Linked DNA regions of Homo sapiens: region 2 is linked to region 1. The links come from fine-mapping of genetic effects on gene expression. A gene starts in region 1. The other region holds a variant in brackets. All regions are shown on one strand. Distances are between the middles of the regions. Region 1 holds the start of GOLIM4 (golgi integral membrane protein 4). Region 2 has its middle 77 kb from the start of GOLIM4.

The links. PIP is the estimated chance that this variant, and not a neighbour inherited with it, causes the effect.
Region 2: its variant is the best candidate, but not a certain one, in a credible set for the expression of GOLIM4 in visceral fat (GTEx, PIP 0.78).

The regions. Positions count from the first base shown.
Region 1 is chr3:168,094,822-168,097,732 of GRCh38, forward strand. It overlaps GOLIM4 (golgi integral membrane protein 4), which reads right to left and starts at 1,103. Exons shown (of 16, transcript NM_014498.5): 1 at 278-1,103. The coding sequence starts at 464. RefSeq lists silencers at 879-928, 1,219-1,458 and enhancers at 1,130-1,631, 1,829-1,878.
Region 2 is chr3:168,171,450-168,174,360 of GRCh38, forward strand. No RefSeq gene overlaps it. Among named protein-coding and RNA genes, the nearest start is that of GOLIM4, 77 kb to the left of the region's middle. The variant A/C (reference allele first, on the strand shown) is at 1,481.

The DNA.
Region 1 (2,911 bases):
GGACTATCTGTGCACCCGCCCACCAAACGCCCAGCGGGACGATGGGCTGGTGCTACGAAGTTCTAAACCTAACCGCTGGGAGGAAGAAGCGGGAGGATGAGAATGTCATCTCCCCTGACACTCTGGTGCCGGCAGTCCTGAAACGCTCACCTCTGACGTCCCTGAAGGTCAGAGGTGGCAACCACAGTGCCAATAGCTCACCAAAGCCACTTTTCCTGCCCGGGTGGAGGCGCGGGGCAAAGTTGGCCACCGGCTGCGCGCGTCCCGTTAGCCGTACCTTGTAACTGGGCGGAGAGGGACTCCTGGTGCTGCTGGTACTTGAGCGCCACCGCCTCGGCTTTCCGCAGCTGCGTCTGCAGCTCGTAGTAGAGCATCGCGCCGTAGAGAAAGCCGAACACGACGGTCAGCAGCAGCAGCGTCTGGAAAATCCGCTTCTGCTTTCGGGAGCACATCCCGTTTCCCATAGTCCCGCCTGGACCCAAAGCCGCGGCCGCCCCCGCCGTCTCCTCCCCTTGGTCCGAGCGAGCGTCTCAGCAGCGGCCGCCGCAGTAGGTGGCCAGACGCAGCATGAGGAGGAGATGCCAGACACAAAAGCCGGCCCGGAGGGGAAGTGGCGCCCGCTCAGCCCCCGCGCGGCGCGGGGCGCGCAGCCATCGACGCCGCCCGGGCAGCTGCAGCCAAACTTCTGCGAGGCTCGTTCTCCGCGAATGCCCGGGGCCGGGAGGAGGCCCTCCGCATACTTCAGAGCCGGCTGCCCTCGCGCCTGTCCCCAGATGCCTCCTGCCTTTTTTCCTTCTTCCCACTTTTTGGCCCCGCTGCCCCCGGGCAGTTCTTGGAGTCCCGCCCTGGCCACTCCCCGCCCTATCGCGGCGGCTCCCACTGCACGACTTTGTTGCCACCTAAGGGAGGGGGTGCGCGCCCAACAAAGGGACCAGGACTCCGGGCCGCGCCCCCGTGCGGCCTGCCCAATGGGTGGAAGGGTGGGGGCCAGCTGTCTCGGCTGGTTTTGGGGACGGCACAGCGGTGTCACTGACGGGTCGGCTGGTGCCTCTGCCGCCCCGCCACCTCCTGCCCAACTTACGTGTCACCCACGGCCCGGCTATTCTGGCCAACGGGATTCCGGGAGGAAGTCCCACTCGGCCTCCTTGCTCATTGGGCCCGTCCGAGCAGACGCTCCCTCCCTTCGGGGAGGCAGTGCCGGGCTCGATTGGATGCCGGCTTTGTCCGTCCGACCCCAGGGCCGCACCTTCCCTCCCAGTGCCGGGGCCGGCTAGGGGCTCTGTGGGCAGCGCGGCCGCCTGGCGCCGGGGTGCGCCCACGTGGAGTCGGAGAGGGTGGGAAGAGGCAGGCGGAAGGGCGAAGGGCGGGGAGCTTTGGGTGGGCGGGGGACTTGTCCGGGCCTGAGTCTGGGTGAGGTTCGGTGAACACGTGTGTGTGTGTGTGTGTGTGTGTGTGTGTGTTCCAGTTCTCGTTCGGAACGCACGTGGAGAGCGGAGTAAAATGTGTGTATGAACGAAAGAATGGATGGCAGTAACTGTGTGCACTCTGCTGAGTACACTTTCTTTCCCTGTCCAATAAACTGATGCGGCAGACACATGGGATAGCTACATAGCACAATCCCGGTAGTCAAACCAGAGATGCCATGTCGACTGCCTTACCCCATCCAGTGTACTAGCCTAGATGTGTGTGTGCCCACAGATGGCCCGGCAGGAGTCGGGAGACTGGAAGCACGCTAGACTTAATGTTCAATTGTCCACGTGGGCTGGGGAAATCGGCTTGCCATTGGCAGAGAGGAAAGAAATGGTCTCACATTTCTCCTCTAGCTGCAAATAGAATAATTTAAAAACAAATCGTACAGACTGAAATGAGTATCCATTCATTTTGTCATATGTATTTGTTTTATTGGTGGCAAAACACATCAGTTACATTTCTAAATTACATTTTAAAGGGCAACAAAGGTTCCCTATGTAAAAACTAGTACAGCACAGGAAAGGTAGTAACCACAAACCTCTTCGAAGAAATGTATACTGCATTTATTTTTTCTGTGTACTTGAGGGGAATAATTAAGGTTATGCACAAATGATAATTTTTGTTTCTGCTGTTGACCTGAATTCTAAGAAAAGTAAATTTTATCTGTCTGTATAGTGTGGTGTAATTTATGATACACTGCATAATTTTTATATTCTAACTGGACTTTAGTCGTTACCATTGCTAATGGGCCTGAGTGCTCAAAATGGGGGTAAATCTCTTTAGCTAAATGCAACAGAAAGACAGTTCCTGGTGCAAAAGTTTTTTTAGGTGGACTCTGAAATTATAGGTTGCTAAAGCCCTAAAATAAACTGAATTTATAACGATGCTACCCTGTGGCATTTATACCACTGTAAAAATAAAGTGTGTCTTGCATGTGCTTTTCCTTAATAAATAATAACTTGCGTTAAATTATTCAAAATGCTTTCGTGTGCAGATACACTGTCTCACTGATCACAGCCAGGGTGTTAGACTTTCATGTTGGTAAAGAAGCCAAAGTTTATCAAAGTGACTATGACAGCTCTAGGACCTTTTAGGTCTTGCATAAAGTTAGTTACTCAGCAAGATTAGAATCCAGATCCAAACCCTGCTCTATGTCTTTTTCTTCAATAGAAACAATGTTCTCATTCTATTAAACAAGTTACAGTAAGAAATTATATCTCCATTAACATGAGAATCTGATTGTAAAAGAAAACAGTCTAAAGGAGTTTGGGAGTTTTGTTGTGTAAATACTACATAATCTTCCTTATTATTAAATCTACCACTTTAAATTCCTCTTTTTTAGTTTGACTCTCAGAAATTAACATTGGATAATTACTGGAATCTCTTTAAAATTCCTCATAACTAAACATTCCTTACTGTTGTCAGAGTACTTTGTTAAACA
Region 2 (2,911 bases), 77 kb after region 1:
GACGGAGTTTTGCTCTTGTTGCCCAGGCTGGAGTGCAATGGCGCTATCTCGGCTCACCGCAACTTCCACCTTCCAGGTTCAAGCAATTCTCCTGCCTTAGCCTCCCGAGTAGCTGGGATTAGAGGCATGCACCACCATGCCCAGCTAATTTTGTATTTTTAATAGAGACAGGGTTTCTCCATATTGGTCAGGCCGATCTCGAACTCCTGACCTCAGGTGATCTGCCTGCCTCAGCCTCCCAAAGTGCTGGGATTACAGGCATGAGCCACTGCGCCCGGCCTCTTTGTGAACCTTTTAATTACTAATTCATTTCTTTAGTTATAGTACAAATCAAACTATTTCATCTTGGTTGAAGTTTGGCAGCTAGTAACTTTTGAGAAATTGGTCCATTTCTTCTAAATTTTAAAATTTATCAGTGTAAAGTTGTGTGTAGTTTTCCCTTATTGTGTTTTTTAATGGCTTCAGGACCTGTAGTGATATATCTTGTTTCATGCCTCATAGTAGTGATTTGTGTTTTCTCTTTTCATTATTGCTAGTCTCGCTAGAGTTTTATCAATTTTATTGGCTTGTGCTTTACTGAATTTTTTTTCTATTGGTTTTCTATTGCCAATTTTCTTGATTTCTGATCATATCTTTAATATTCCCATCATTTTATCTTTGGGTTTAGTTTGCTTTTGTTTTTCTAATTTCTTTTTTTAATTTTTAATTTTTGTGAGTTTATAGTAGGTGTATAATCTTATGAGGTACATGAGATGTTTTGATACAGACATGCAATTCCTAATAATCACATCATGAAGAATAGGGTATCCATCTCCTCAAGCATTTATCTTTTGGATTACAAACAATCTAATTATACTATTTAGTTATTTTAAACTATATAATTAAATTATTATTGAATATAGTCACCTTGTTGTGCTATCAAATAGTAGGTCTTATTCTTTTTAACTATTTTTTTTAAACCATGTTTTTCTAATTTCTTGAAGTAGAGACTTAGATTAATGATTTGAGACCTTTCCCTATTTCCAGTGTAAATATTTGGGGGAATAAATTTTTCTTTCAACCCTGCATTAACTACATTCTACATATTTTGGTATGTTACATTTTAATTCAATTCTCTCTCTCTCTCTCTTTTTCTCTTTTAGCAGGCAGTCACACTGCTTAGGTTCAGTGTGAAGTTTGTGGCCTACTTTTGTGGTCTGTATTTCCAATGAAAGTTTAATTTTTAGAGCCTTTGTGATGTTATTTTGTTCTTGGTTTGCCTGGGGTTGCCACTGGTCTCTGCTGGTGCTGATGGGGTGTAAAAGTTTTCTCATGCTGGGAAGCCTGATGTCTCTTGGTGCAGAAGGGGAGTCTCAGGTCTTTGAGGACAAAGAGGATTTGTTGTGACAGAGGTCTTATTGCTGATGCCACTGCCACTCTGGTATATCTAGTTGCAGGAGGGAAGTCTTGGGTTTGTAAGGGACAGAGAGTGCTTCCCTGG[A/C]TGATTGTTTTGAACTGGGCCCTGGGACCCATCCCTTTGCCAGTGGTGCCATGCTTATCTAGTGTCCTCAGAGGACTACTCTTTTATTGTAGAGATAGAATGGTCCTACCTGGACTACCTTCTGTCGCTAGGTTGAGGTTTGGGAAACACCAGGTCTGGGTTGCCTTCTTCTGTGGGGTGAAGGGAGGTAACATGCCTTTCCCTTGTGTCATTATTCTGGTCCTAGGATCTCACACTAGTTCCTCTTTTGACCTTTTAGATTTTTTCTTTGGTGATCTCTTGTCTCTTGTGGTATTGCAAGGATTATGATTATATTTAGCAGAGGGGAGCAGAGAGAAAGAAGTCTATGCCATTTCGTCTGGATAAGAATTTTTCTTGTATTTTTTATAAAGCAAAAGTTTTAAATTTTTATTAAGTTTAAAATATCAATTTTTTTTGTCTTTTTCGTTTGTGTTTATATTAGTTCATTCTTACACTACTACAAATAAGTACCTGAGACTGGGGTAATTTATAAAGAAAAGAGGTTAATTGGCTCATGGTTCTGCAAGCTCTACAGGAAGCATGGTAGCTTCTGCTTCTGGGGACGCCTCAGGAAATTTACAATCATGGTGGAAGGTGAAGGACAAGCAGGCTCATATTACATGGTGGGAGCAAGAGGAAGACAGAGCAGGGAGGTGCCACACACTTTTAAACAACCAAATCTCGTGAGAACTCTATCACAAGAACAGCACCAAACGGATGGTGCTAACCCATTCATGAAAGATCCACTCTCATGATCCAGTCACCTCCCACTAAGCCCCAGCTCTAGCACTGGAGATTACACGTGGACATGAGGTTTGGGTGGGGACAGAGATCCAAACCATATTCTACCCTGGCCTTTCCCAAATCTCATGGCCTTCTCACATTTCAAAATACAATCCTGCCTTCCCAACAATCCCACAAAGTCTTAACTCATTCCATCATTAACTCGAAAGTCTGTGGTCCAAATTCTCATGTGAGACAGGACTAGTTCCTTCTGCCTATGAGCCTGTAAAATCAAAAACAAGTTAGCTACTTCCAAGGCACAATGGAGGTATAGGCATTGGGTAAATGCTGCCATTCCAAAAGGGAGAAATTGGCCAAAAGGGAGAGGCTACAGTCTCCGTGCAAGTCCAAAACTCAGAAGAGCAGTCATTAAATCTTAAGGCTCCAAAATAATCTCCTTTGACTCCATGTCTCACATCTAGGGCATACTGGTGCAAGGGGTGAACCCTGAAAGCCTTGAACAGCTCCTCCCCTGTGGCTTGACAGTGTTCAGCCCCCATGGCTGCTCTCACAGACTAGTGTTGAGTGTCTGTAGGTTTTCCAGACACATGGTGCAAGCTGTTAGTGGATCTACAATCCTGAGGTCTGGAGGACAGTGGCTGTCTTCTCACAGCTCCAGCAGGCAGT